Homo sapiens: one gene and its partners. The protein of the gene in region 2 binds, or shares a complex with, the protein of the main gene of each other region. Each region holds a gene or a part of one and is shown on either strand. Other genes may lie near its edges. The genes, in order: SMARCD1, DPF1, ARID1A and SMARCD3.

Region 1 (7,020 bases), on a different chromosome or scaffold from region 2:
TTCTGTTGCTACTATGATTGGTTTAATACCTGCAGATGCCTACTTTGCCTATCTCTCTTAAGAGATATTCAGAAGATATTTTTTGAGTTTTTTTCCATTGTTGTTGGGGTTCCTTTTTCATAGGATTTTGTCTTGGGAAGTTTCTTCTGGCCTTTCCTAATGTGATTTTTATTTTCTCTCCTCTAGTCAGCCTTGTCCAAATATGATGCCACTAAACAAAAGAGGAAGTTCTCTTCCTTTTTTAAGTCCTTGGTGATTGAACTGGACAAAGACCTGTATGGGCCAGACAACCATCTGGTAGAAGTGAGTAGCTCTGCCTTCTAGGCTTTGACTCTGATTGGAGGATGATGGACTTGGGAGCCGTATTTTAATGTCTAAGGAGATGGGGAGGTATAAAGTAGTCACTCTAGGTGTACACAGTACCGCTCCAGGTGTACAGTTTGCACATTGACCTCTAGGTGGCACTAGCATGTTTAGTTAGGACCAAGGGCTCTTGTAACCTAACTTGTCCCATCTTTTTAATGTTACTATCCTGGTCACTGCCACCTCTTTCAAGGGAAAGTCTACTGGTGGCCTCTTGTATGTGCCAGGCCATCTCTGTATCTTGCTTGTTAATAATGGTGAGATGTAGTTATCCATTTTTCCTGGCAGCAGTTGCTGTAATTAGAGTGATTGACTGATAGGGTACTAGTACTTGCCAAGGTTACCATTATAGATCTGGGACTTCCTCTTGGTCTCTGCTCTGTTTACATTTACATTCCAATTCACCAAAAATCCTTTATTATGATGCCTGATTGCACAACGTTTTGAAGCCCATGTTAGCAACAGTATTCTTTGGGAAACAGGCAAAACCAGAATGACAGTCCAGCCAGCACTCCAAGTGAACCTAACCTGCTCCTTTCTTTGCCAGTGTAGCTGCAGCCCCTTAACCTCAACCACTAAGAGACATGGGGAGGTCTTTACCATCTAATAAGGGAAGTAAGTCATAGAATCAATAGAAACTTGTAAATATATTTAATTTTATAGCAGTAGAGTATAGTGGCTAAGAATGTGGACTGTAGAATCAGACACATCAGAGCTCAAATGGTGGCTCCGCCACTTACTGGCTGTTTGACCTAGGCAAGTTACTTTATTATGCTGAGCATTAGTTTTCTCATCTGTAAAATAAGTATAATTGTGCCTATCTTGTATAGATGTTCGGGAAGTGAGATAATCCAGGTAAATGTCTTAGAATACTGTCACACATAGTAAGTACTCAGTAAATGATAGCTATGTTACTGTTCACATGTGTATTATCCATTTTGTGGATAAAATTATCACTGGACATTGAGGCTTATTTAAATCAACCACAAACAATTAAAAGGTTAATCTACTTATACACAGACAGTAATCCCAAAGCCATATGCAGTTTTTTAAAATGCCTCATGCTATTACTCTTCTCCAGTAGCCTCAGTAATCAAAGTTGAATATTCAGTCATTACAGAAGCTCTTCCCTCCCACCCCAGCTCTTCCTCTGGGAGAGCACCCCCTGACATCTTCCTCTCTGTAGTGGCACAGGACCGCCACTACCCAGGAGACCGATGGCTTTCAGGTGAAGCGGCCGGGAGACGTGAATGTACGGTGTACTGTCCTACTGATGCTGGATTACCAGGTATTCTGTGGTGGTGTGAGGGGGTCCAGCTTTCACAGCCACATACCGTCAGCAGTCTCACTTTAAAGAGTTTATGTCTAGTTGTGAATAATTTGCCACTTTGGCACAGAGATAGAGTCTTAGTCATCTCTGAGTTCTTCCTAGAATTTTTCTGTCCCAGAAAAAGCACTACATTATTTGTTGAATAGCTTGAATGTATTGCTGCATATAGACGCAGCTAACTAGCTTCATCCCCTATACTTTGGTTCCCTGCAGCCTCCCCAGTTTAAATTAGACCCCCGCCTAGCTCGACTCCTGGGCATCCATACCCAGACTCGTCCAGTGATCATCCAAGCACTGTGGCAATATATTAAGACACATAAGCTCCAGGACCCTCACGAGCGGGAGTTTGTCATCTGTGACAAGTACCTGCAGCAGGTAAGTAATGGACCCATTCTTTTGCTAGAATCCATTAGAACACTAGTTATGCTCAAACTGCTAACCTCGTGCTTCTCCCCTTTGCTACAGATCTTTGAGTCTCAACGTATGAAGTTTTCAGAGATCCCTCAGCGGCTCCATGCCTTGCTTATGCCACCAGAACCTATCATCATTAATCATGTCATCAGGTAGGCCTGTGTGTGGGAGGCAGTGCTGTGCCGGAGCTGCCTTGTGCCGATTTGCACAAGCCAGTTGTCAAATTTTCAGGAATTTTGCAAACAGGTTGTTAAACACAACTGTTACACTGTTACTTACAATTAAATTACATAAACTTATAATTAAATATATTAGACTAAAAGTGGGTAACATATATTCAAAATGTATAACTTCCTAATTATTACATTTTATTGTATTTGTGCTTTTTTTTTTTTTTTTTTTTGGAGACAGAGTCTCACTCTGTTGCCCAGGCTGGAGTCCAGTGGCGCGATCTCGGCTCACTGCAAGCTCCGCCTCCTGGGTTCACGCCATTCTCCTGCCTCAGCCTCCCGAGTAGCCGGGACTACAGGCACCCGTCACCACACCTGGCTAATTTTTTGTATTTTTAGTAGAGATGGGGTTTCACCATGTTAGCCAGGATGGTCTCAATCTGACCTCGTGATCTGCCCGCCGAGCCTCGTGATCTGCCCGCCTCGGCCTCCCAAAGTGCTCGGATTACAGGCATGAGCCACCGCGCCCAGCCTGTATTTGTGCTCTTGAGGTTATTTTTGCCTGTTGTATCCATCTGGCGGAAATATGATATAATGATGTGCTTATGTGTTACTGTGCATCTCTTCCCATGAACAGTAATGTAATGTTGGTAGCTTGAAATCAGAATTTTTTTTTTTTTTTTTGGGATGGAGTTTCACTCTTGTTATGCAGGCTGGAGTGCAATGGCACAATGTTGGCTCACCGTAACCTCTGCCTACTGGGTTCAAGTGATTCTCCTGCCGTAGCCTCCCACATAGCTGGGATTACAGGCATGTGCCACCATGCCTGGCTAATTTTGTATTTTTAGTAGAGACAAGGTTTCTCCATGTTGGTCAGGCTGGTCTTGAACTCCCGACCTCAGGTGATCCACCCGCCTTGGCTTCCCAAAGTGCTGGGACTACAGGCGTGAGCCACCGCGCCCGGCCTTTTGTTTTGTTTTGTTTTGAGATGTAGTTTTGCTCTTGTTGCCCAGGCTGGTGTGCAATGGCATGATCTCAGCTCACTGAAACCTCCGCCACCTGAGTTCAAGCAATTCTCCCTCCCCAGCCTCCCACGTCGCTGGGATTACAGGCACCTGCTACCATGCCCAGCTAATTTTTTTATATTTTTAGTAGAGACGGGGCTTCACCATGTTTGCCAGGCTGATCTCAAACTCCTGACCTCAGGTGATCCGCCCACCTGGCCTCCCAAAGTGCTGGGATTACAGGTGTGAGCCACTGCGCCCGGCTGAAATCAGAATATTTAAAGCCCAAAGATCAGCAAATGCCACACATCTGGGCACTTCCTCCCACTCTCCTTTGGAAGATCAGTTGTTAAACATCTACCAGCTCTTCACTCATGGAAGGGCTCAGCAGCCATCTTTTCTCTGGATGGTACAGCATTCTAGTCCGAGCCTCCCAATTCCATTACCTCTGTTCACTTTTTTGTTTAGAAGCTGGAGAGCAAGGCATCTCTAGATAGGGGGTGAAGAAAATTTCCTTCTCAAAGCAGCGTGTCTCTGTAGTTGGATATAGTCTCTTTGTCTTCCTTCCTTTATTCCATATTAATTCTGGTAAGGGCTTTCTTTTCTTTTCTTTTCTTTCTTTCTTTTTTTTTTTTTTTTTTTTTTGAGACAGACAGAATCTCACTCTGTTGCACAATCTCGGCTCACTGCAACCTCTGCCTCCTGGGTTCAAGCGATTCTCCTGCCTCAGCCTCCCAAGTAGTTGGGATTACAGGCGCATGCCACCACGCCCAGCTAATTTTTTGTATTTTAGTAGAGACGGGGTTTTACCATGTTGGCCAGGATGGTCTCGATCTCTTGGTCACGTGATCCACCCGCCTCGGCCTCCCAAAGTGCTGGGATTACAGGTGTGAGCCACCACACCCGGTGGGCTTTTTTTTTTTTTTTCTTTTGACCCTGAACCTACAAGATGACAGAGAGGGAGGGGAAAAAAAGAAAAAAGATAAGACCCTGAACCTTCACTTACACAGTAGTAACTCCTCAACCTATAAATTAGGTCAGTAGAAGTTGGTCTGTCCTATATTCCTATGCTTAAAGTTAGACCACTTTTAATTTTGTGTTTGACTTTATTTTTGGGGTCAATTTTAGTTTAAAAGGGAGAAAGCCAGGCACGGTGGCACATTCCTGTAGACCCAGCTACTCCAGAGGCTGAGGTGGGTAGATCACTTGAGTCCTGGAGTTCGAGTCCAGCCTGGGCAACAGAGTAAAATCCTGTCTCTGAAACAATAAAAAAAGATTTGTTTGGCTGGGCGCAGTGGCTCACGTCTGTAATCCCAGCACTTTGGGAGGCCAAGGTGGGTGGATCACAAGGTCAGGAGTTCAAGACCAGTCTGGCTAATATGGTGAAACCCCATCTCTACTAAAAATACAAAAATTAGCTGGGCATGGTGGTGGGCGCCTGTAGTCCCAGCTACTTGGGAGGCTGAGGCAGGAGAATCACTTGAACCGGGGAGGCAGAGGTTGCAGTGAGCCAAGACTGCGCCACTGCACTCCAGCATAGACAACAGAGCAAGACTCCATCTAAAAAAAAAAAGAAAGGCTTCGTTTGTTTAAACATACAGAGTCTTGCTCTGTCATCCAGGCTGGAGTGCAGTGGCATGATCTTCGCTCTCTGCAACCGCTGCCTCCCAGGTTCAAGCAATTCTCGTGCCTCAGCCTCCCAAGTAGTTGTAATTACAGGCGTGCACCACTTTTTGTATTGAGGTTTCGCCATGTTGGCCACACTAGCGTTGAATTCCTGGCCTTGAGTGATCTGCCCGTGTTGGCTTCCCAGAATGCTGGGATTACAGGTGTGAGCCACCGCACCTGGCCAAAAAAGTTTTAAAAATTATTATTATTATTTCTTTTTTGAGACAGAGTCTCTCTCTGTTGCCCAGGCTGGAGTGCAGTGGTGTAATCATGGCTCACTGCATCCTCGACCTCCTGGGCTCAAGTGATCCTCCCACCTCGCCTCCTGAGCAGCTGGGACCACAGATGTGTGCCACCACGCCCAGGAATTGTTTTGAAATTTTTTGTAGAAACTGGGGTCTGTGTGGTGTAGGCTGGTCTCAAACTCGTGGGCTCAAGCAGTCCTCTTACCTGAGCCTCCCAAAGTGTTAGGATTACAGGCATGAGCCACCATGGCTCGCCGAATTTTTTTTATTTTTAGAGATCGTCTCACTCTGTCACCCAGGCTGAAGTATAGTGGCATGAACTTGGCTCACTATATCCTCTGCCTCCCGGGTTCAAGAGATTCTCCTGCCTCAGCTTCCCCAGTAGCTGGGATTACAGGCGTGAGCTACCACGTCCGGCTAGTTTTTAGTAGAAATGGGGTTTCACCATGTTCCTGACCTCAGGTGATCGCCCACCTTGGCCTCCCAAAGTGCTGGGATTACAGGCATAAGCCACCACGCCTGGCTGCCAAATATTTTTTTTAAAGGGAGAAAGATATATAGGAGACTGTAGCAGTGATTTCCTCTGGAGAGAAAGGAACTACTTTTCACAGGATACCTTTTGTACTGCTTGAATTTTTACCATTGACTTTTTAAATAAATCAACTTTATTGAAGTATAATTTATATATAACAAATTATACCAATTGAAAGTGTAGTTTGAAGATTTTTGCCAGATCTGTACACCATGTAGCTGCCACAATAAAGTGTAGAACATTTCTGTCACACCCGAAAGTTCTCGGGCCCTTTTACAGTTAGCCCCTTTTCTCTTCATCCTGGGTCATCTTTTTGACCCTGTGTAATTAGGTCTTAGGGGACAAGCTCTTTACCAGGCTCCTTTGGTTTCCTGTCCAGTGTTGACCCGAATGATCAGAAAAAGACAGCTTGTTATGACATTGATGTTGAAGTGGATGACACCTTGAAGACCCAGATGAATTCTTTTCTGCTGTCCACTGCCAGCCAACAGGAGATTGCTACTCTAGACAACAAGGTAGGGGTCTGTGCCCTGGATAGTTGGGTACCACCAGCCCCTATCACAGCTTCAAGGCCTCCTTTTGATTCTTAGTGTTCATTCAAAATACGGTGACACCCAGTATATGTCAGGTACTGTGCTTGGTGCTGGTTTGAGCCAGACTCAAATGAATTCTGATTGTGGGGATACTCTCAACAGCACTGAGCCTCGGTTTCTGATTTGTGGAATAGAGACCATAGTACCTTTTTTTTCCTTTTTTCTTTTCAGGAGTCTCGCTCTCTCGCCCAGGCTGGAGTGCAGTGGTGCAATCCCGCCTCACGGCAACCTCCACTTCCTGGGTTCAAGCGATTCTCCTGCCTCAGCCTCCCAAGTAGCTGGGATTACAGTCACCCACCATCACACCCGGCTGATTTTTGTATTTTTAGTAGAGACGAGGTTTCACCATGTTGGCCAGGCTGGTCTCCAACTCCTGACCTCAAGTGATCTGCCCGCCTCAGCCTCCCAAAGTACTGGGATTACAGGCGTGAGCCACCACGCCCAGCCCATAGTACCTATTTTAATCAGGTTGCTATGACGATTAAATGAGGGAGTGTGTGTAAAGACTTGAGACTGTATCTGGCACATAAAAACAACAAATGGTAACTTCTGCTACTATTATTGTTATCTGGGTTGTTATTACTAGACGCAGTCCTTGCAAATAAAGCCAAAAGTGCTTTGGGAACATGAAGGAGAAAGGGAGGCTTTGCTGGAAGAGTTGATGCCCCAACTAAATCTTTTCTTTTTTTTTTTTGAGATGGAGT
Region 2 (7,872 bases):
CAGAGGCAGACACCCTCAGGCACCCACAGAAAAAAATACAGGCAGATGGCCGGGCATGGTGACTCAAGCCTGTAATCCCAGCACTCTGGGAGGCCAAGGCAGGTGGATCACCTGAGGTCAGGAGTTCGAGACCAGCCTGGCCAACATGGTGAAACCCTGTCTCTACTAAAAATACAAAAAAATTAGCCGGGCATGTCAGTGTGCATCTGTAATCCCAGCTACTCAGGAGGCTGAGACAGGAGAATCGCTTGAACCCACTAGGCGGAGGTTGCAGTGAGCTGAGATTGCGCCACTGTACTCCAGCCTGGGTGACAGAGCCAGACTCCATCTCAAAAAAAAAAAAAATACAGGCAGACTGATCCATCCCAGTTCCCAGGGGAAGGGACACAGTCAGCAACTCCATACACCCACACACACCTAACAGATATCACTATGCCCTCCAATACCACTGGGACCCTTGGTGGGGCATGGTGGTTCACGCCTATAATCCCTGCACTTTGGAGGGCTGAGACAGGAGGATCCCTTGAGCTCAGGAGTTCAAGACCAGACTGGGCAACATAGTAACACCCTGCCTCTATTTAAAAAACAACAGGCCAGGCGCGGTGGCTCACACCTGTAATCCCAGCACTTTGGGAGGCCGAGGTGGCCAGATCACCTGAGGTCAGGAGTTCCAGACCAGCCTGACCAACATGGTGAAACCCCGTTTCTACTAAAAATACAAAATCAGCCGGGCATGGTGGCGCATGCCTGTAATCCCAGCTACTCGGAAGGCTGAGGCAGAATCGCTTGAACCTGCTAGGCGGAAGTTGCGGGTTCAAGGTTCAACTCCCCGCTAGGTGGAGGTTGGGGGATCACGCCATTGCACGCCAGCCTGGGTGAAACTCTGTCTCAAAAATAAATAAATAAATAAATAAATAAATAAATAACAACAACTGGGCACCTGGGCCCATGTAGGAGGAGATGCAGTCGCCACTCAGTGACTCAGAGAAACTGTGGAATCTCTGGGAAACACCCGGGACGCACATGGGCAGACAGACACACAGCCAGCCAGGCAGACACTTGCTAGAAGGCGATAAAGGTGATGGACGAGTGCTAGGACACACAGCAGGCGCTGGGACACCGATGGGGGCCCCAGCGGCTGCACCCACCGATCTTGTACTCGCAGGGCCTGAGTCTGGGGTCCTCCAGGATGTTGAGTCTCCGTTTCTTCCTCCAACAGCGGGCGGGGTACGTGTAAATCTGTCCCGGGGCCAAACCTGGAGAGAGAGGGGGGTGAGAGGGCGGCGGCGGTGGGGCGGCCTGGCCCCGCCCCGCCCTGCGCCAGCCCTCCCGGCGGTACCCGGCCCGCGGTGGGTCTTCTCCATCCAGATGTAGCAGTTGTTCTGGGCCACGCCGGTCTGCGAGTCGAGGAAGGGCAGTCGCAGGCTGCGCTCGGCGCACAGGCGCGCGTTGTAACTGCGGCAGTGCTCGATGGCCTCGCGGTAGAAGTCCTCGCCTAGGCTAGAGGGGCGGCGAACGGGCGGGCGGCTGTCAGCAAGGGCAGGCGCACAGGGTCGCCCAGCACCCCTTCCCCGGCTGCCGGGCCGCCCAGGCTCGGGAGGGGTGGGCCGACCCCTCCAGCCTCACCTCTCCCCTCCTCCCACTCCGGGACCCAGGCTGGGGGAAGGGGACAGGGCCCAGGGGCCCCCAAACTGGGACTCAAACAGGCCCCCAGCTCATGAGTAGAAACACGATACAGAAACAAACAAAAACACACCGGGACGTATCCCTACCTGAACACATGCAGACACACAACACAAATCACACACAGTCACACGGGATTCACACACAAAGAGAGACAAATCCCAATACTCACAAAGGAGAAACAGACAAACCTCACACACGTGCACACATAAATATCTACTGAAAAAGACAAATATCCCAAGTTCCATAGTGTGGAGACAAATCACACAAATAACCATGCACAAAGACACATCACATATCCACAGACACACACCAGAAACACATCACCCACACAAAGACACACAACATGGAAACATCACACCACACACACATACACCCCCTCATGCATCCAAAGACACAAGCATGTCAAAAGACAGGAACTACAGAAACCACTTGCGCCCCTAGGCACTTACCCATGTATCCAAAGACACAACACAAACCACACACACAATATCCAGACACACAACACAAAGAAATCACACAGATTCACACAGGTACACACACACATTTACAAAGATGCACGATGCGCAACCAGTATCTAAAATATCACACATCCACACAGACACACACACATATAAAACACAGAAACAGCCAAATCCACCCATAGTCACACAAAAATTTACACACAAATACACGCAGCCCTACATACCCAAAAACACAGAACACAAGACAAATGACATATAGTTCCAAAGGACACGGACACACACTGGGAGACCCAAATATCCAAAGATATCTAGTGCAGAATAAAAGGAAACAGACACATGTCCACACACCTATCCCCCAAAAATTCTTAAAAAAACCAGAACACAAATAAGTGATACACACACACACTCCACATCCCAAGACAAAGGTAGTGTGGACTTCACTCCAGTTGCCAAGGCCCCCGCACCCCCGGGTCATTTCAGTCTCTCCCAGACCCGAGGGTTGCAGGGAAGGGATGATGTCTCCCTTCCCCAAAAAGAATCTGGAGGCCCCCCACGCCCTCCACCCCGCCAGGGAGCGGTGCATCCGACACCATTCTTGTCAGAGACCCACAGTCACACACTCTCGCACCCCCGCGCAGCCCCGCACTCGGTGACAGCCCCCCAGACACCCCTTCGGCCCCACCCCCGGTCGCCACACACACACAGGCCCGCGTAGACCCGCCCGCGCTTCCTCTCCGCCTCCCGCCGGCCCGCACCACCTCAGGGGGCCAGGGATGACAGTGGCCATCTTGCTCCCCGGGTCCTGCCCCCAGCAGGTCCCCGCCGGGTCGGTCCTCCCAGCGGTCGGGCGGGCGCTGAGGCCGCCCATCCATTCATTCCCGGGGGGCGGGAGCACGAGGGCCACGGCCAATCGCGGCGACGGGGCGGGCCCGCCCGGGCCATGCTGGGAGTGGTAGTCCCAGGCCAGGGGGCCCCCGGGACCCCGCGGGGACGGGACGGCGCGGAGGAGGGGCCCGGGGCACGCACCGTCACTCACCCGCCCTCACTCGTCCACATATCCTGCTCTCGCGTGCACACAACCACATGCACACCTGGACTCGCACACGCCCACGCATGGCAGTTTACACACACATTCACGCGGATACTCACAGCCTCCCACACACTCCTACTCACACACCTTCGCACGGACTCACACAGCCACACGCACACACACTGCAATACTAAGAGACGCAGAGACACCTCCCAGGTGCCCACACAGACTTCTCACCAACATGCTTCCAGCAGACACCCCCTCACCGCCCCCCACCCAAGTCCCTCCTGGCTCCAGAGACCCCACCCGGGGCTGTCTCTCCCAGCAGCCACGCTCACGGTCACCCCGCCCTGCTCAACGCCTTCTGCAGGCCTGACAGCAGCAGTGCAGGTTAGAAACAGTAGTCACACCTCCAGGGTTCAAATCCTAGCTCTGCCACTTGGTGGCCATGTGACCTTGGCAAATGACTTAACCTTTCTGGGCCTCAGTTTCCTCATCTGTAAAAAGAGGATGATGCCTCACTGGAGTGTTGTGAGGATTAAATGAGTAAATATAGGTAAAGCATTTTAAGAGGTGACTGGCAGGCCAGGCGCAGTGGCTCACACCTGTAATCCCGGCACTTTGGGAGGCCCAGGCAGGTGGATCACCTGAGGATGGGAGTTCGAGACCAGCCTGGCCAACATGGTAGTAGTCTCTACTAAAAATACAAAATTAGCCGGGCATGGTGGCGCATGCTTATACTCCCCCACTCAGGAGGCTGAGGCAGGAGAATCACTTGAACTCAGGAGGTGGAGGTTGCAGTGAGCTGAGATCGTGCCATTGCACTCCAGCCTGGGCAACAAGAGTGAGACTCCCTCTCAAAAATAAATAAATAAATAATAAGAAAGAAAGAATAATGCGGCCAGGTGCGATGGCTCCAGTCTGCAATCCCAGTACTTCGGGAGGCCTAGATGAGAGCACTGCTTGAGCCCAGGAGTTTGAGACCAACCTGGGCAACATATCCAGACCCCTGTGTCTACAAAAAAAAATTAAAATTAGCTGGGCATGATGGCGCAGCAGTGTAGTCCCAGCTACTTGCAAGGCTAAAGTGGGAGGATAGCTTGAACCTGGGAGGCTGAGGCTGCAGTGAGCTGTGGTCTCACCACTGCACTCCAGCCTGGGTGGCAGAGCGAGACTCTGTCTCTAAAAGCAAACAAACAAACAAACAAACAAACAAAAAACTAAGTAAGCAGGGCGCCGTGACTCATGCCTGTAATCCCAGCAATCTGGGAGGCTGAGATGAGAGGACCGCTTGAGCTCAGGAGAACAGCCTGGGCAACATAGCGAGACCTGGTCTCTACTAAAAAAAAAATAAATAGCTGGGCATGGTGGCACATGCCTATGGTCCCAGCTACTCAGGAGGCTGAGTCAGGAGGATTGGTTGAACCCAGGAGATCGAAGCTGCAGTGAGCTATGATCACACCACTACACTCCAGCCTGGACAACTGAGCAAGACCCTGTCTCCAAAAAAAAAAAAAAAAATAGATGCTCAGTAGATATTTGTTGAATGAGTAAATGCACCCATCATGTGCTGGGCACAGTTCACCCCGGGATGCTTTTATTATCTGCATTTTCCAGGTGAGGAATCTGAGGCACAGGAAGGTAACCTCACATGCCCGCATGCCCTGGCGGCTCTTTGAAGGTAAGACTGAAGGAAGGAGGCAGGCACCCCTGACGGCCCTCCCCAAGTAGTCCTGACCTCCTTCTCTCTCCCACTGTCACCCACACTGACTCCACCCGAAGAGATCCCCAGGGAGTGAGCAGACCCACTGAGTCACAAACTGACCCAGTCTCTCTGCAACACCACCACCCCGTCCCCCCTCCCGTCTCACCCCTCCTCCCCCTTTCCCCTTCCCACCCCTTCTCCCCCTTTCCCCTTCCCCTCTTCCACCCGGACCCCTGTAGAGCCAGCATTCAAATTTGGGCGGCTGCTGTAATTAACACGCCCACAAACGCCCTCATCCACCAGGGGGCGCCCCAGCCGACAGAAGTGGCCCGCTAGCCTTCACCATTTTTGTCACTTGAAATCCCCCCAAGAGAGAGATCCAGTCAAGGCCTCCTACACTCACGGTCACTTCTACACACACACACACACACACACACACACACACACACTCCTCTAGTCTTAGACCCTTTCCACAAACTCGCCCATCTAAGCCAGGTAAGGTCTTGGCCGGCCCCTCTCCTGGAACAGGAGGTAGGTCTCTGATTCACATATGGCCTGGAGTGGTGACAAGGGGATTAAGTGAGGGGCACTGACACCCCTACGATCACTCTGGCCTCCAGGGCCCTATAGTGGCCACCTCACACCTTACCCACGGTGAGCTGTGACCCCACCTTCCTCTCTCACCTCCCATTAGCTCACAGGTCCCGTAACACACCCTCTTACACTTGATTCCCACACCGCTAGCCTCAGACACGCAGACTCACTCCTGCCCCACCCCAAACTCTCATGTCGATTTGATTAAGAGAAGCCCGAGTGTAGACACTGAGTGCAGACCTTCCTAACAGTCCTCCTCTACCAGCAGAATTTCTATTTTTCTTTCTTTTCTTTTCTTCTTTTATTTCTCTTCCTTCCTTCCTTCCTTCCTTCCTTCCTTCCTTCCTTCCTTTCTTTCTTTCTTTCTTTTCTTCTCTTTCTTTCCTCTTTCTCTTTTTCTCTTTTTTTTTTTTGGACAGCGTCTCACTCGATGGCCCAGGCTGGAGTGCCATGGCATGAACACAGCTCGCTGCAGCCTCCACCTCCCAGGCTCAAGCGATCCTCCCACCTCAAACCCCCAAGTAGCTGGGACTACAGGCCTGTGCCACCGCACCCGGCTAATTTTTGTATTTTTGTAAAAACAGGGTGTCCCTGTGTTGGCCAGGCTAGTCTCAAACTCCTAAGCTCAAGTGATCTGCCCACCCTGCCCTCCCAAAGTGCTGAGATTACAGGCATAAGCCACCATGCCCGGCCCACCAGCAGGATATCTACCCACAGACGCAGGCTGACACTTGCAGCGGGCTCTCCTTTCTTTCCTTCTGCCCTAACCACCTGCACACACCACTCCCACATACTCTCCTACACACTTGAACTCCCAGTCCTCTCCCTGGCCCAAACAATCCTCCTGCCCCATCCCCCAATGCCCTGTGTGGGAGCTGGCCCACAGTAGAAATCAATTTCATAAATCAATATTGATACTACTAATAATAATCACTACATTTGGTCAGTGTCAGTCTCTGTGCTAACTGCTTTACAAAGATGGCCTTAGCCCCACGACAGTCCCATCGGGTGGTAAGGGCTGTTAGAAGCCCCCATACACAGATGGCAAAACTGAGGCTCACGGCAGGGAACATTCGTGGCTCAAGCTGGTTTTGGAACTCAGGCAGTCGGAACTTCCGAGGGCGGCACCCTGCAGCTCCTTCTCCCCAGGGGATTTGACTCACATTCTTTCAGGAGCCAGGGAGTCCCCACCTTCACCCCCACAGAGACCTTTTGGAAGGGAAGGGCACAGAGGGGTAGGGCCCTCCCAGTCCAGGCTTACTGTAGCTGGGCCCCTGCTCACGGCTGTAGCACACCTCCTCCCAGGGGTCTGGGCCAGGGTCAGGGTGAGGGGCCCCATCGCCTGTAGATCCACCAACCTGCACAAGAGCCCCGTTCCCAGCCATTTTGCGGATGTCCCCTCACAGGAGAGACAGCTGTCTGTGTGTGCCACTTAGGGTGAGAGGGCAGCAGAGGGGTGTCACCATCATACACCACCTCACACGGACCCGAGCCCCACACACCCGCTCCCGGCACCCTGCTCACGGCGAAGCCACACGTGTAGGCGCTTGCCTCTAAGTCCCTGCCCCCCTTCCTCTCCCAACTCCCACCCTCCACCTCCCACCCCCATTCCCGCCAGAAACCAGAAGCAACTGGCGGCCTCTGGTCCAGCCAGCAGGCGCATCCCTTCTCGTGGGTGGGGTAGGGGGGCGCTCCCTCTCTCCCTCTCTCCCCCCACCCCCCACCCCCGCCCCCAGCCCTCGATGTTCAAGGTCAAGGCAGCCAGCGCACGGGGTTGGGGGAAGGGTGGGGGAGGTCGCCCCGGCCCCTTTGTGCGACGCCGCGGGCGCTCGCCCTCCGCCTCCTCCACCAGGCCCGGGAGGAGGGGGAGGGGAGCGCCTCGCTCGCCTGCGGGGAGGGAGGGCGGGAGCGGCCGAGTGCCTGTCACTTGGAGCCCGCTGTCACCGCCTGGGAACGGGGGGTGGGGAGCGCTGGGACGTGGAGTCCGGGATCCCGAAGAGGAAGCAAGAGCGAGATGGAGAGGGGGAAGGGGAGGTGTGGAGAGCGCGAGGGATGGCAAGGAGAGGAGAGGGTCAGGAGGGGCCAGGCTCGGACCCAGGCTTCCGGATTCCCAGCCACCGGGCCCGGGAAGAGGCGAACGCTCGGAGGACCGCGGCCAGGGAGAAAGGGAGGGAATCCCCGGAGACCGAGGGCGCTCCCGGCACCCCCTCCTGGGCAGCCGGTCCCCAAAGGGATCAGAGATGCTCCCGTTTGATGTGTATGCGCGGGGAGAGGGAGGGATGCCGCGGTCCAGACTGACGGCGGGTTCGGGGCTTCCAGTTCCCGGGATCCCGGGAGGAAAAAGGGGAGGCAGCGGGGATGGAACTGGGGACCCCCGACGTCTCAGCTCCCACCCT
Region 3 (7,020 bases), on a different chromosome or scaffold from region 2:
AGGGAAGCTGGTGTCTTTCATGATCTTGAGGGACTTTCTCCTAAAGGCTTGGTTTGGTGAAATTGTTTTTTTCCTGGAATAACAAAAAGTCTAGTTTTCTGTTTTGTCATCAGTCATTTTAGAGCTTTGAAATAGAGACTGGCCAGTTTATTCCTTTGCATTTTAATGTATGTTCCACTTTTTTTCTTGTCTTCCAAGATATGAAGATACGACCTAGAATGACACTTAAGATTTGCTTAGAAATTGCAACTTCTGAGTACCTTGTTACACTATTCTATCTTGTTTTATTTTGTTGCTTTTCTTCCATCTTCATCATGCTCTGTCAGCAGTGCTTTTGGTCAGGGATATTGAGTATTCTGTGGAGTCATACATGTTTTCAAAGAGGGGGAAGCTCCATTCATCCCCTCCCAAACCCCTTGCGCTTTTGTGCTAGGAGGAAATTTTGTTCACTTACTAGCTGTATTCCCAGCCCATCCTAGAGCTACTTTACTACTCTTTTGAGCTGGGGATTTTGAAATTAGCTGTGTTAGATGGTGGGCTTGGAGCTCTGTGCCTTGATTCTACATCTTCCATGATGTTCTGCATCTGGACAAGAAATAGGGAAATGTTACATTGTTTTTCTAGTGTCTGGAGGAAAAGTTTTGTCTTAAAAGACAGCATCCTCTTGTCTCTGGGTCATCCTATAGTCTGAACCTCTTTCCTCTCATTCCCCTTGTTTTGTTTGGTTTTGGCTGAAAATTTTACTTTTCTTGAAAACTATTAGAATAAGTCATTTGGGGTAGTAAGTCAGGGTTCATTTAAAAGCAAAATTGATTGGAATTCTGCTGGTTTGGAAATATTTAGTCAAAGGTTTTAAAGAAAAAGCCAACTCTTTTGGTATAATGATTTTTGTTTTTCAGTCAGTAAATTATGGAACACTTTCTGTGTAGATGATAGGAGAATAGATACAGTCCCTGTTTGGATGCCTGTCTGTGCTGCCTTTGGATGAATTTTCTGATCTCTTTTATTATCACTAGACCCACACAACATAGATTCCTAATTAATTTCAGCTCAGTTGTCTACTCCCCAGAGACCCAGGGAATGGGCTGGTGAGCATTCAGTTGTGTAAGAGACAGTGCAGCTTCCACTTCTGTGGACTGCTTCAGGTGTGTGGTAGTAGTCTAGGTGAGGGTTGTAGGTTCAGACTTTGTTCTGAATTTCTCTTTGCTACTTGATAAACCTCTTTTCAGACCATGATGCTCTACTCTTCAACATTCTTAAATTAAAAAGTCTTGCTCTGTCTCCATCTTTTCCTGGCGCAGTCTTAGATTAAGAATATTTTGCAGAGACTTAATTAACACAGCTAAGGTGATAACGTTTTCATTTGACTCTGCGCTTATGAAATAAAGTTTAGGTAAGTGTGTGTATTGTGGCTATGTCTTTTTCACAGGACCTGGGAAGATCTTAGACAAACTTTTACTTTATTCCTTTTCATAAGTAGTGTATCTCAAGTGTTGAATCCCGGTACTGATGAAATAGTTTTAGATTACTTACACACATGAAGTTGATTTAAGGCTTTTTATTGGGACGCTTTTTAGCAATAATACTTTGAGAGTAATACCAGTTTACCAAGGTAAAAAATAAAATACAATAAATAGTCCAGGAACAAGTTGGATTTTATTGTAGAAGTTTGGTTGTTAGTTTCTACTACGGAAACATCAAATGATATTTCTGACTCCTGGGAAACAGATACAGGAATCCTAGATTTATTATGGGAATGCCTACTGGCAGAAATTCTAGGCTGGCTGAAATACAGGACTCTTGGAGCTCTCTCAAGTAGGAGGGACCAGGAAAACCACACTGAGATGGCACTTTAGTTGTGGGGGTTTCATGTTTCTCTACTGTTCATGAGAGAGCTGGGGTGATGAGGATTGAGATGGTGGTGTGAGAACAGAGAAAGCAGCCAGGACCAGGTTTGGCTTCTTGTGTATTGGGCCCTGTGAGGACTTTTTAGGTTCCTTTCTTTGTGTGTGACATGAGTAACCATGACAAGCAGCACCTGCTGAAACAGGATGTCTTGGATTGCATTAAACATTAATATGTTGGATTGACTCCTGTAGGTGTAATGTCTACAGTAGACCTTTTGCAAAGAGGTTAGTGAACTTTTTTAGAATGAGGGAATAGGCTAACAAAGTAATAGGCAGGGCTCTTTCCTGTTCCCATCCCTCAAAAGGTTGTATTGATTGGCTTCAACTCTCAAAATTCTAGAAGCAACTGAAGCTTGTAAATATGGTAAAAATGTGGTATTCAAATATATTGGCACCGAGTAGTTCTTTTCTGCCAGTGAGCTGTAATACCTGGGGCTTGAATGGAGTCCTGATTCCTGTGGCTTTTATCTCTGGGTTTTTCCTTGTTTAGATTGGTCATTATCATTACTGACGCACACTTACGTTGTTATTACTGATGCATACTTGAGTTGTGTGTTGCGTTAGTGGTAAAGAGCACAGGACTCACAACAGGAGGAGGAAGGAGGAGGCTTAGGTTCCACATACAGCTCCAGATTAAGCTGTGTGACCCTGGGCAGGTCATTTGCTTTCTCTATTTTTCATTTTCTCCCTCATCAATAAAATGAAGTTGGTCTGCATGGCCTTCTCACTCTAAGATGCTACATATCTGTGCTTCCATAGCTGGCTTGTTATGAAGGCAGCTTTCTGTACATAAATCAGGGGTCTTGAGACCATCTTTCTTCCCCTGGACTGAAGGAACTCAAAGCTATTTTCTCCTGGGATTCACAGGAACAAGCTCTGAACAGTTGGGTGCCATTGTGGTCTGTAGACTTTTACAGAAAAAGCTCTACCAGACTGTTGCCTTGAAACTGTTAATCTGTTTGTCATTAGTCATTCCACCTGGCTGGTGGTTTTAAAACACTAAATAGTCGTTGGAAAGTTAGGTAGATTTCATTAAAGCAAGACTTGAAAAATAGTTGCTTCAGGATCCCCAGGAGGCTTTTGCACTTGGGGTTGGGGTGAGGAATGGATATTCATAAGTTCAGTGTTGATATTCTGCTGCTTTTGGGGAGGGGTAGGGAGAGAGAGGGAGCATTAAGCTCTCCAGACTCCTGGTGTTTGGGCAGGTCTAGGTCTGGTTTGGGCAGTTGGTTGTAATCTGAGTGCCTGGACTTGCCCTGTAAGTTTTGCTGAGAGAGAAGCAAATGTTCCTGAGACTGGAAGAGGAAAAGCTGCGTTTCAGGGTCAATTTCATAGGTGCATTTGTTGTTTCTCATCGCTATGGTTTAAAAAACTACATGGTGTGCTTTGCACGTGGTCCTGGAAATGCTATTCTTTCTCTTCTCCAGCACACCTGAATTTCCATTCTTTCTCTTCCTGGCTTAGTAGTTTAGAAGTGTAATTTAGGTATATTAGAGGAAGGAAGCTTCCCTTTATAAAGGAGGGAAAAGGGTAGAGGGAACAGTGTTTGATAATTCTGTGCTTGACACAGCATCTTCTATCGTCTCTGAAGGAACCAAATGTTTCAGAGCTTTGTGTAAATACTTGCTGAGCTGTCAATATGTACCCAGGAGGTTTCTGTAGTAAGATGTAAACTGTTCTATAGAATGTTTGACAGGCAAATTAATAAACAGTTTTCAAGCAAAGATAATGCTAGCCTCCTCATGTGGTGGAGTAAAATAACATTGGGGAAAAAGACTTGGGGATAGGAAAAGGGTAGTGCTGGGGGGCAGTGAGTGTGGAGATAAGAAGTGATCTAAAAAAAAATTGAAATGGAAAGATGCTGCCCTGGTAGTGAAACCTCTGTGGCCCTGGCTGCGTGCTAAGTTCAGGGCATGTGGTATCCTGTTAAAGTCAATTGCAGTTTCATAGTGAAAATAGAAGTTTGGAAAGAAGATCCTGACTGTCAATAGTAAGGTAAGTATTACCCCAGACACTTGGCTTATGAGACTTTGAGGTTTAAAGGGTAGCTTGGTGAGATTATTTTTGGCTTGGGTTTGCATTTCTGGAATATTAGAAAGGAGAAAAAAGATACTGCAACTTGAGTGTGATCTTTATCCTCAATTTTGCTGTTGTGCTGGGGATTATAAGTCCACTACCCAATGGCCTGGGTTTATTTATACAGTTTTTACTGGACTTCTGTGTATCACTTATGATAAAATTAATATGCCTTTACACTCTGTTCCTGGGTCAGTACAAAGTCCAAATATTTGGGGACTCACTACATCTTACTTGAAGGATTATGTGAGTAGATACAGTCTTTGTTTTTGAAATTGCCATTTTAGGATTAAAAACATATCTGGGTTCCTTCAGTGACACATTCTTTTTATGGAAGAAGAAGAAGAATCTATGAATATTTTAGCTGTCTGTCTGTGGTCCTCTTCTTTGGTAGCCTTGTGAGATGACCAGATTTGCCTTCTCAGAATGTCTTTTTTAACTAGATTCATTGATTCTGACACCAGTTTTCTTTATAAGAAGTGTTTTTTACACCAGAGTCCTGGAAGTGCCCTTTTGACTTAGCTGTTTATATAGTAGCAGGGAATATGAATGTAATTATGGTCCTGACTATGATTTTTAGGTTCAGCTAACTTACTACCAAAGGCTATCAGCTTGTTTTAATACAAAACACAAAAACTTGGATTGGCACTGACATAGGTTGCTTAATATTGCATGGTCCTTTCCCAGTATGTTGGTAGTGAGGGTATTAGGAACTTCAGACTTATTGCTGAGAGCATAGTTTCTAAGTCAGAGAGATCAGGAAATTCCAATGGGGATGGGAAATAGCCCTATGTGATTACACCAGCTAGGTACTAGGAAGAGATTTAAAAGGTAGAAACAATATCTCCTTCAGAGGCATTTAGTTTTCTTAGGAAAGCATGCTTATGTGCACACATCTGGAAAACTTGAAAAGCAAGGTTTCATAAATGGATGTAGACCACACTAATTATGTGAGCTGAAGGAATTAGAGGAAAAGGTTCAATCAGTTTGGCAGGGTTAACCTGGGACAGCTTTTCAGAGGCTTTTTTTGTGAAGCTAAATGTTCAAGAAACTTAGAATACTAATTTGCCTTTTCATAATGCTATTCTTAAGTTCCATGGGCTTGATAGAATCCACATTGCACATCCATCTCCAGACCAGTAGCTGTCTCAGTGTTCCAATGACTTTGAGAATTTGGACTCTAACCATAAAACTCCCTGAAAGAGTGGTTCCAGGGTCTTAGTGGTTCTTGTGGTCAGGTAGAGCCTTTGGTACAGACTGTTAAGTTCTTGGCTAGTTCAGGGGCACTTTTCTAGTAAATTTGGATTTGGAAGGTCATGTCACCTTCAGAGTTGTGTGCCCTGGACAGCTCTGTAGTAATGGTGGTTCAACTTTGTTGGTGAGTCTGTCTTGGCAGAGTTAGTTGACCTTTCTTAAAACAAGAGCCACGAAGTAAGTATCTGTTGGGACTCTTAGGCTGCTATTTCTGAGGAGCTGGGAGCTGTGTTCAAGTCAAGTTGCTTGTGTTAGACCTTATATTGAGGTTGATGGGTTAGGTAAGCCTGCACATATGCAGTCTGCCCATTTATTCATAGAAATGGCCTTTAATACTGTTTTTGGCCGGGCGCGGTAGCTCACACCTATAATCCCAGCACTTTGGGAGGCCAAGGTGGGAGGATTGCCCAAGCCCAGGACCAGCCTTGGGACCAGGCTATTAACATAGGGAGACCCCATCTTTACAAGACACAAAAATTGCTGGATGTGGTGGTACGTGCCTGTAGTCGCAGTTTACTTAGAAAGCTGAGGCAGGAGGATTGCTTGAGCCCAGGAGGTTGAGGCTGTTGTAAGCCATGATTACGCCAGTGCACTCCAGCCTGGGCAATGGAGCCAAGACCTTGTCTCAAAAAAAAAAAAAAAATTTGTTTTTTATTAGGTTACTATGGCCAAGCAGCTAACAAATGCTGCTCACCAATGCTTAATCCTTGTGGAGCCTCTGGAATATAGTGATTTTGGTTTCTTTACCTGCTGGTCGATCTGTGGTTGGGCCTTGGCACTTCACCGGTCAAGGATCATCAGTGGATGCTTAACAGCTGAAGATGCATGGCATGTCCAGTGCCAGGCCACTGTAATGCTTCTACCTGGAGAAGGATTGGTTACACTGCTCCAGTACAGAAGTACTGCAGACCTTTTTTTTTTTTTGAGATGGAGTCTTACTTTGTCACCCAGACTGGAGTACAGTGGTGCAATCTGGCTCATTGCAACCTCTGCCTCCCAGGTTCAAGCGATTCTCATGCCTCAGCCTCCTGAGTAGCTGGGATTATAGGCTTCCACCACCATGCCCGGCTAATTTTTGTATTTTTAGTAGAGGTGGGGTTTCATCATGTTGGCCAGGCTGGTCTTGAACTCCCAACCTCGGGTGTGATCCACCCACCTTGGCCTTCCAAAGTGCTGGAATTACAGGTGTGAGCCACCACGCCCAGCCTTTTTTTTTTTTCCCCCCCCCTCAAGTAATGGTCCATGACCTGCTGAAAGTACTGGAGTCTTGGATAAACATTCTGGTTTAGAAATACCTTTTCCACTTTTTTTGCCTTGCCATTTTGGCATTTTGCAAAAGTGGGTTTTCAGTTACTCAGAATTGGGCACCATAGTTAACCTCCTATGGATTACAGGTGTTTAGGGGCTTGAACTCTGATCATTCCCAGGTTTTAGAGGAATCCAAGTTCGGGTGAATATTGACTTAGTAGCCTTGAGTATTCTTCCTGAAATTACCCCTCCTCTCCATTTAAATGGATGAAATTAGTTTTTTACTGAATGTGAAGGGACATCTGAATGAACTTCTGTTTGTTTTTGTTAGTCACTTGTGCATAGCTGGAATATTATCTTGGGACAGGTTGAGTCTATTTCCCAGTGGCTTCTGCATTTTCTAAGGGTGGACTGGAATGGGAAGAAGTCTAATGCCAAGAATGCATTCCAACATGCTGCAGAGTAGGAAATTTGATCCCTAAAATGTTGACTTAGTGTTGGTCATGGTACATATTAGAAATCACCCAGTAATCCA
Region 4 (7,110 bases), on a different chromosome or scaffold from region 2:
GGCGGGGGTGAAGCAGAAACGGGCGCCCGTGGGTCAGACCAGGGCCCCCCGCTCCAGGCGCGGTGAGCCGGCGTCTCCCCTCCCCCACCAGACCCTCGGCTGGTGACCCTGAGCGTTGAGCGATGGGTGGGAGCGATGGGTAGGAGGGGCAGGGGCGCCGGAATCTGCGCGGCTCTGGCGGAGGGGCTTGGCGTCTGGCTGCAGGAAGCTAACTGAAGCCAGGCACCGCACAGGGCATTGCGAGCCTCGGGGCTGCGGAAGGTACCGCAAAAATGAATATTAATGGCGCCTTTCAACCTTTCAAAGATGTTCACATCCACATGCTCCTCTGCAAGACAGCCTGAGCAGGTCCTTTCATCCCCACTTGACGGATGGGGCCACTGTGGCTCAAGGAGAAAAATGACCTCGCCAAGGTCACACAGCTCATCCTGGCCCAGGCAGCCCCTGAAGGGCTGCCTCCTGGGGGCCCAGGGCTTTGCTCTCTGCGGCTTGGTTGAGGTCCGGTACCCGGCTCCCTGCTCCGACTTCTGCTCCTCCTCCTGCTCCTCCTTCTCAGGCTCCACTTCTTGGGCGGTTCTGCCTGGTACTCACTAGCTCATCTCAGCCACTCTGCTCCCTGTGTCCCTGCTTTTGACCCTTGGGTCCCAAACCCCACTCCCCTCGGCTGACTCCAAGTCCCCACATCCAGGGTCTTCGCTGACCAAGCTGCCCCCATAATTTGCTCCCAGGGTGAGGGCTGGAGGCAGGGCAGGCAAGGGCAGCCTGCTGGGGCGCCCCAGACACAGCCAGGATTCTCTGATTGGGAGGAGGGGAACTGCGTTAGAGGTGGGCTGCCCAGGGGGGCCTGGGGTGGGTCAGGGCAGTGACACTTGCACTCACATTTCCCTTCCTGTCTGCCCAGGTCAGCAGCCACCTCCTCCTCTTCCCATCCCCACCCCAGTGAGGTCAGCAGTCAGGGTTCATGGGGGCTGTGGAGACTGAGAGGAGGCGGCTCCTCCTCCCTTGCCACTACCCCTGGGTGGTCAGATGGGGTGTAAATGAGATGCAAATGCATCGAGCGAAGTGTTCCAAACCCCACTTGTCCAGACTCCAGAAGGGAGATGGGGAGGGCCAGAGAGAGTTTCAGGGGCTGTGAAACAGAAAGAGCGGGGTGGGATGGGGACTGGGACCACGAAAGCAGGAAGAAGATCAGAGGGCAGGGGATGCAGACCCTGGCACTGTTAACATGGACACACCACCCACCTCACCCCCAGGCATGAGGAGGGGCCCCCTTGGGCTTGCTGTTTTCCTTCCAACTGCTACCTCTCCCTCCTGGTCCTCCAGGCTCTGTGTCTAACCCTAATGTCCTCCCACCCTCGGTCAGCAGCTGTCTCTGCCTATCTCTCCTGCAGTGAAACCTGCCTGTCCATGTGTCTGCTTCCCTCACCCCACCTGACCCTGTCACTCAGGCCTCCAGGGTAGCAGCCCAGAATGGAGCCCAGGCCTGGCCACCAGCTAGGTGGGGCACTGGGGCTCACAGCCACTCAAGAACTGAAGCTGTAAGTTGACCAGATTAAAAAAACAGTCCACGTGTACAGCCTCTCCCCACTAGATGGGCCTTTTTAAAGGGGCTCCCACCAGCAGCCAGGTTAGGACTGGTAACTCAGCTAGCTGACATGGACACCTTGGGAAGTTACCCCCAGGGGTCCCTGGGGCTGGAGGACAGGCCACTCCAGGGAGTCCCCCTCTTCCTGTCAGCTGCTCTCCCCAGTTATCAAGGCCAGGGATACTGGCCCATCTGCTGAAGAGGCCCTGAGAGGGAGGCTTTCAGAGCCCCCAGAGAGCTGTGCCCGCCACCAGCCCCATCCCCATGAAAGGCCAAAATCCTAGGGACTCTGGCCTTACTGAGAGGGTGTCTTCCTTGGGGTCACAACCAAATTTGGCCATAGTAAACCCGACAGCTTCCTCTACACAGGGCCTCCACTCCCTCACCCATCCCAAGAGTCGCAGCCCCTGCTTCTCCCATTCCCCACCCCTCCATACCCCTCCCAGCCGGGCCCTACTGACTCAGCTCCAGCCTCCCGGGCTCCCACGTGCCTTCACAGCCTGCCTGTGGCAGGACAGTGCTCCCCTGTCCCTTCGGTCTCTAGGCCTCATGTCCCCAACTCCAGCCCCTTCCTTCACATGTTCGAGGAGTTAAGGACATCAGCTTCTGGTGGCTGAGTCCGCCAAGGAGACCCTCAGAGCCCCTAACTTGGGCTAAGTCCCTAGAGCGGTCCTCTCCCCCACCCTAAGGCAGAAGCTCCAGAGCCCTCCCGCTGGGATGCAGAGGTGGCTCAGCCTGCGAGCTTCCCGCTACAGTGCCTCCAGGGTCACCTGCTCCTTGCTCCGGAGACACAAGCAGTGACACTGTCCCAACGGATGAACAGACAGCCCAGCCCAGCCTCTGCCATGTCCCCATCCCCCACCCCCACCCCCAGGGCAGGGGCAACACCTGGGCCCACAAGGAAAAGAACGAAAGTCAACCTGTCGGCTACAGCGAGGACCCCCTACTTGGGGGGTAGAGTCCCCAAGTCCCACCCCCGCCCCTGACAAGAGCCATGCAAACGCCTCCCTTCCCCGCCTCGCGTCAGACCCGGCCGGCCGCCTGGCGACGTGTTCGGGTGCCAGGGCGCCAGCACAGTCCCGCGGCCGGGCCGTGGGCCATGACGCCCCCCACTAGAGGGGTGGGAGAGCGGGAGCGCCCTCCCGGCCCCTCCCGATCAGCCCTCCATTCAGCCCGAGCCAGCTCGCTTGCCCTCCCCCGCTAACTTTCCCCCACTCACCACCCCATGGACCAGAAACTCAAAAAGTTTGCTTTTCGTGGCTTTGCGCGCCCCTCCGGCAACTTCGTCCGCGGCCATCGGGGTGGGCTCAGCGGCTCCTCTCACTCTCTCTCTCTCTTCCTCTTTCTTTCCCTTTTCTGCCTTTTTTTTTCCTCCAACTCTCCCCTCTGAGTCCTGCTGGGCTCTCTCACACTTCTACTCGAGCGGAGTGGGGAGGGGGCCCCTTCAGGGCTGCCCTGACGGCCCACGGCCCACGCCGCCGCCGCCCGCCCGCCGCCGCCGCCGCCGCCGCGGCTGCCGCATTCCTGCACTGATAAGACAGAAATAGTCCGGCGGCCCGGGGTCTGCCTGTTGACTCGGCGGGGACGGGGCCGCCTGCCTTTCCAAGCCCGCTGTCCAAACAGCGCAGATAAGCGGCGAGGCGCGCCGACCAGCCCGGCCGCGGGCGCTGGGCAGCAGTGCTGCAGCCCGAAGCCGCCGAGGCCCGCGGGAGGCGGCGCGGGGAGGGGACGCCAGGGGAGGCGGCGGGGGGTCGCCGGCCACCGGCTCTCGCCACAAATAGTTTCTCCGTCAGGGAATTCGCCGGCCGCGCCAGGCAGGGAACAGTCAGTTCCAACTTTTCCCCCAGCGGCTCCTGCTGCATTTCTGAGGCCCTTTCCCCAGAGACCTGGCAGGCCGAGCAGGGAAACATTCGCTGGCAGGAACCGGGGGAGCCCGGCCCGCGAGGCCTCGCGCCTGCCCGGGGCCGGCGGCGGTGGGTGTGCCCGGGCGGCGGCGTGGCCCTGCGTCCACTGCTGTGTGTGCCCTTGTCTCACACGCCGTGTGTGTCCGCGCCCTTTTGTGGCGTGGCAGCTTATGTGCGTGCAGACAGACGCCCTGTATGTGTGCCTCCCTCCACGACAGCCTCCGTGCGCGCGCGCCTGCGTGTGTGGCAGGACATGGCCTGTGCCTTTCAGCTCTGTGAGAGGCTATTTCTGGGTATGTGAGTCTTTGTTTGCCGCTCTGTGAGAAAGTGAGGGCAATAGGGGAAGTATTTCAGAAAGAGGGACAGGGATTGTGCTCATGAGAACAGGAAGAGAATGAATGTGGGGAATGGCGCAGCGCCAGGGGGGTGCTCGGGTGGGTGCGTGGAGAGAACGAGGCAAGCTGGGCTTGGTTTCCTTGGGGTGGGGGTGGAGTGGGGTTAGGGGACCCAGAGGAGTTGGGGCAGCTGGGCTGGGTATAGTGGGTATATTGGGCCGGCCTCAAGACCCCAAAGAGAGGGGTCTTGAGGCTGGGGTGTGGCGTGGGGTGGCAAGGGAGCCCCAGAAGGGGCGTGTGGAAGGAGTTGGCAGTCCCTGGAGTGGAGGAGGGACCGGAAGGAGGAGGGGCAAATCCTGACATACCCAGGCAGGGAGTCCTGGGCCTACCCAGGTCCCCAAAGGCCACGCCCCTTTTTTCTCCTTCTTGGGGAGGAGCCGTGGGCTTTGGAACAAGGCCCTTGGGTCAAGTTTGGGGGTCTGCTGGGGCCTCACTGTGAGAATCCAGGTGAGGGCAGGACCATAGCCTAGTGCCTAGGGGAGTTTGTTGAAACACTTACTTGAAGTTGGGCCCTGAAGACTGAAGGGTACTGACCCTAAACCCTTCAGAATGCCTTTGCCCAGGGGGTCCTTTCTGCCTGCAGCCTGATTTCTGCTGGCCCTGGTTGTGCTCTTGGCTGTCACTGTTCATTTAGGTGCCCACTGTCAATCTGAAATGTCAGGGAGGACATCTGGTCCAGGTTGCTCCTCCACCACCCCTAGCTTGAAAGGGGACCTAGAGATCCCCTTGCTACCAAATCTCTCCCAGGGCTTTAGCCTAGACTACCCCCCACACACCCCCACACACAGAGCCTGGGCCCTGACACGGTGGGGATGGGTGGGTGGCCTGCCTCTGTCTGCCATAGGTCATGCTGCTGGGAACCTGGGGAAGTGACTTGCCCAGTCTGCCTGCTAACCTCCAGAATCCCCGCTCACTCCCATTTCTTAGCCCCTGCCCCCGATTCTTTTACCTGGAATGCCCTTTGCCTGCCCTCTGCCTTCCCTCTGCTTGTCCAAATCACACCTATTCTTTAAAGCCCAGCCCAGGCCCCACTTCCTCCAGGAAGCCTTCCTTCGTCCTACTTGTATGCAAAGATTTTTCTCTTCTCCAAATGCTCATTGCCATCTACCCAGCACCATGAATTGGCATTGGACTGGCCTGACGTGCACTGTGCTTCAAGGACATTAGCTTTGCTTTCCCAGAGAGGCTAAGGTCCCCATAAGGTCAGAGACTGATCTTTAACTCCCACTCTTCCTCCATGCCTGGGCACAGGAACTCAACAGTACCCCAGATACCTGATGCTTGCAAAGCTTAATGAGCCAATGCATGGAGCTGGTACTCTGCCATTTACCTGATGGTGTGAGTTACCATGGGCACCCCCACCCACCATGGGTGCGTCTAGCAGGGGCATGGGAAACCACAGGCCTTGGAGGTTCTGGGGGTTGGAGATAGACACCCCTAGGCTTTGTTAAAGCTCAGTGTTCTCAACTATTGGAGAGACCTTTTGGGAAAAGAAGACAGCAGAGGAGATGCTGGGCACTCCAGTTTGGGTAGCTGGGAAGTTTGAGGCAGGGCCTGGGAGATCCCGGGCTTGGTCTTGGTGGTGGAAGAGGTTGCGGGAGGTAGTTAGACGAGGGGCTATGGTGAAGCCCCTGTGGAGGAGCTGGTGAGCTTCACCCAAGTCCATACATAAGCGCTCTCCTGAGCCACCCCTCTGGGAGACATCCTTAAGTGTACACAGACAATAGATACACCTTGCACACACACCCTCCCAACACACACACAGCAGGCACACCAATACAAGCACCAAAAGGTCGAGGAAGCCACATGGCTCTGCACACACAGGCACACCTTGAGCACCTCCACATCCCGTGGTGGGCCCCATTCACAAGGCAGGCCCAGACACATTTGCGTACTGCTTTTAGGTGGGCGACAGGAGGAGCCTTCAGACCAGAAAGCTGGGGCGGCGCCAGTGTGGGGGCCCGGGCCAGGGCTCCCTCCTCACAAAGGCCAGGATCCCCAGTGGCTTAACCCCAGAAGGGCGCTCGGTGTGCCACGCCGCCGATGGCTCCTGCGGGTGGGAAGGAGGCCCGGGAAGAGCGTGGATTCCTCCCAGCGCAATAGGGCGCCCGCCGCACTTGGGGCAGGCCGTGCGCCTGTCGGGGGCGAGGGCGGCCGCCCGGCGCCCGGCGCCGCAGTCCCCCCTGCCGTCCCCCCATCGCTCCTTCCCTCGCTGAAGCACCACCAGCACCAAATGGCAAAGCGCCGCTCCCCGCGCAGGGAGAGATGCGCCGCGGCCTGCGGGACGGGCTCGGCCGCCTCGCCCCCACCGCGCCCGAGCGAGCGGGCGGCGGCCGGGGAGCTGGGGGGGCTCGGGCCGGCCCGGCCCGCGCCGCCCCTCCCTCCGCCCGCGCCGGTCCCCGGCCTGGGCATGCGCGCCGCGGCCTCCCTCCCGGTGAAGGTCAGCCCGGGGCCCAGCTGCAGGACTCCGCGGCGGCCGGGGAGGCGGCGGAGGGAGGAGGGATGCGGGGAAGAGACTTAACTCCTTCCCTGCGGGAAGATGGCCACCTAGGCCGGGCCCCAGCCGCAGTCCCGCCCTCCTGCCCTCCGTGAAGGTCCCACCACGGGGACTCCGCTCGGGGGGCGCGGCAGGAGGAGCAGGAGAGCGGGGAACATGGAAGAAGGGGCTGGAAGGAGAGAAGAGAAGCTGGCGAGGGGATAGGGAGGAAGGGAAGGGAGGAACAAAGGAAGCGAGACTGGAGGGAGAACGGATTGCTTGGGAGAGAGCTCTTTCCTCTATTCCCTTTTCCCTACACCCCCAGCAATAAAGCTCTCCTTAGGAGAATACGATCACCCTCACTGGGGCGGCCTGAGTGAGTGTGTGTGTGTGTGTGTGTGAGAGAGAGAGAGAGCGAGAGAACGCGAGAGGAGAGGGAGAGAGAGAAAGAAAGAGAGAGGGAGAAAGTGAGACCACTTGGCGCTGTGAGGACCACAAAGCCTTGGTTTCGGTGTTCTGGCCATCTCTAAACCAGGCCCCACTTTCCGCCATCCAGCCTACCTGCCCGGGCTAAGCACCAGCCTCGGGGGACCTCTGGCTAGTCCTTGGGGTCACGCCCAGCTCCAGAGAGGGAGGAGGGGAGACTACCTCAACCCCCGCCTCTGGTGACGGTCAGCAGAGGGGACGCTCCGAAGCCAGGCCAGGGGCATCAGGCACCTTCCTCCTCCTCCTCCTGGCTGCCCCCATGCT

Evidence for each region.
Region 1: DPF1 (region 2) and SMARCD1 share a complex: the UniProt entries of both Homo sapiens proteins name them as parts of the neuron-specific chromatin remodeling complex.
Region 3: DPF1 (region 2) and ARID1A share a complex: the UniProt entries of both Homo sapiens proteins name them as parts of the neuron-specific chromatin remodeling complex.
Region 4: DPF1 (region 2) and SMARCD3 share a complex: the UniProt entries of both Homo sapiens proteins name them as parts of the neuron-specific chromatin remodeling complex.

What each region holds. Positions count from the first base shown.
Region 1 is NC_000012.12:50,088,335-50,095,354, forward strand, and holds part of SMARCD1 (SWI/SNF-related matrix-associated actin-dependent regulator of chromatin subfamily D member 1), read left to right. Parts: intron 1-186; coding exon 187-303; intron 304-1,505; coding exon of another isoform or gene 1,506-1,532; exon of another isoform or gene 1,533-1,549; coding exon 1,550-1,651; intron 1,652-1,906; coding exon 1,907-2,068; intron 2,069-2,158; coding exon 2,159-2,256; intron 2,257-6,102; coding exon 6,103-6,238; intron 6,239-7,020. UniProt on the Homo sapiens protein: Involved in transcriptional activation and repression of select genes by chromatin remodeling (alteration of DNA-nucleosome topology).
Region 2 is NC_000019.10:38,221,209-38,229,080, forward strand, and holds the start of DPF1 (zinc finger protein neuro-d4), read right to left. Parts: upstream 3,015-7,872; 5' UTR 2,935-3,014; coding exon 2,906-2,934; intron 2,698-2,905; exon of another isoform or gene 2,548-2,697; intron 1,501-2,547; coding exon 1,340-1,500; intron 1,257-1,339; coding exon 1,149-1,256; intron 1-1,148. UniProt on the Homo sapiens protein: May have an important role in developing neurons by participating in regulation of cell survival, possibly as a neurospecific transcription factor. Belongs to the neuron-specific chromatin remodeling complex (nBAF complex).
Region 3 is NC_000001.11:26,698,996-26,706,015, forward strand, and holds part of ARID1A (AT-rich interactive domain-containing protein 1A), read left to right. Parts: intron 1-7,020. UniProt on the Homo sapiens protein: Involved in transcriptional activation and repression of select genes by chromatin remodeling (alteration of DNA-nucleosome topology).
Region 4 is NC_000007.14:151,245,681-151,252,790, forward strand, and holds the start of SMARCD3 (SWI/SNF-related matrix-associated actin-dependent regulator of chromatin subfamily D member 3), read right to left. Parts: upstream 3,015-7,110; 5' UTR 2,883-3,014; coding exon 2,805-2,882; intron 1-2,804. UniProt on the Homo sapiens protein: Involved in transcriptional activation and repression of select genes by chromatin remodeling (alteration of DNA-nucleosome topology).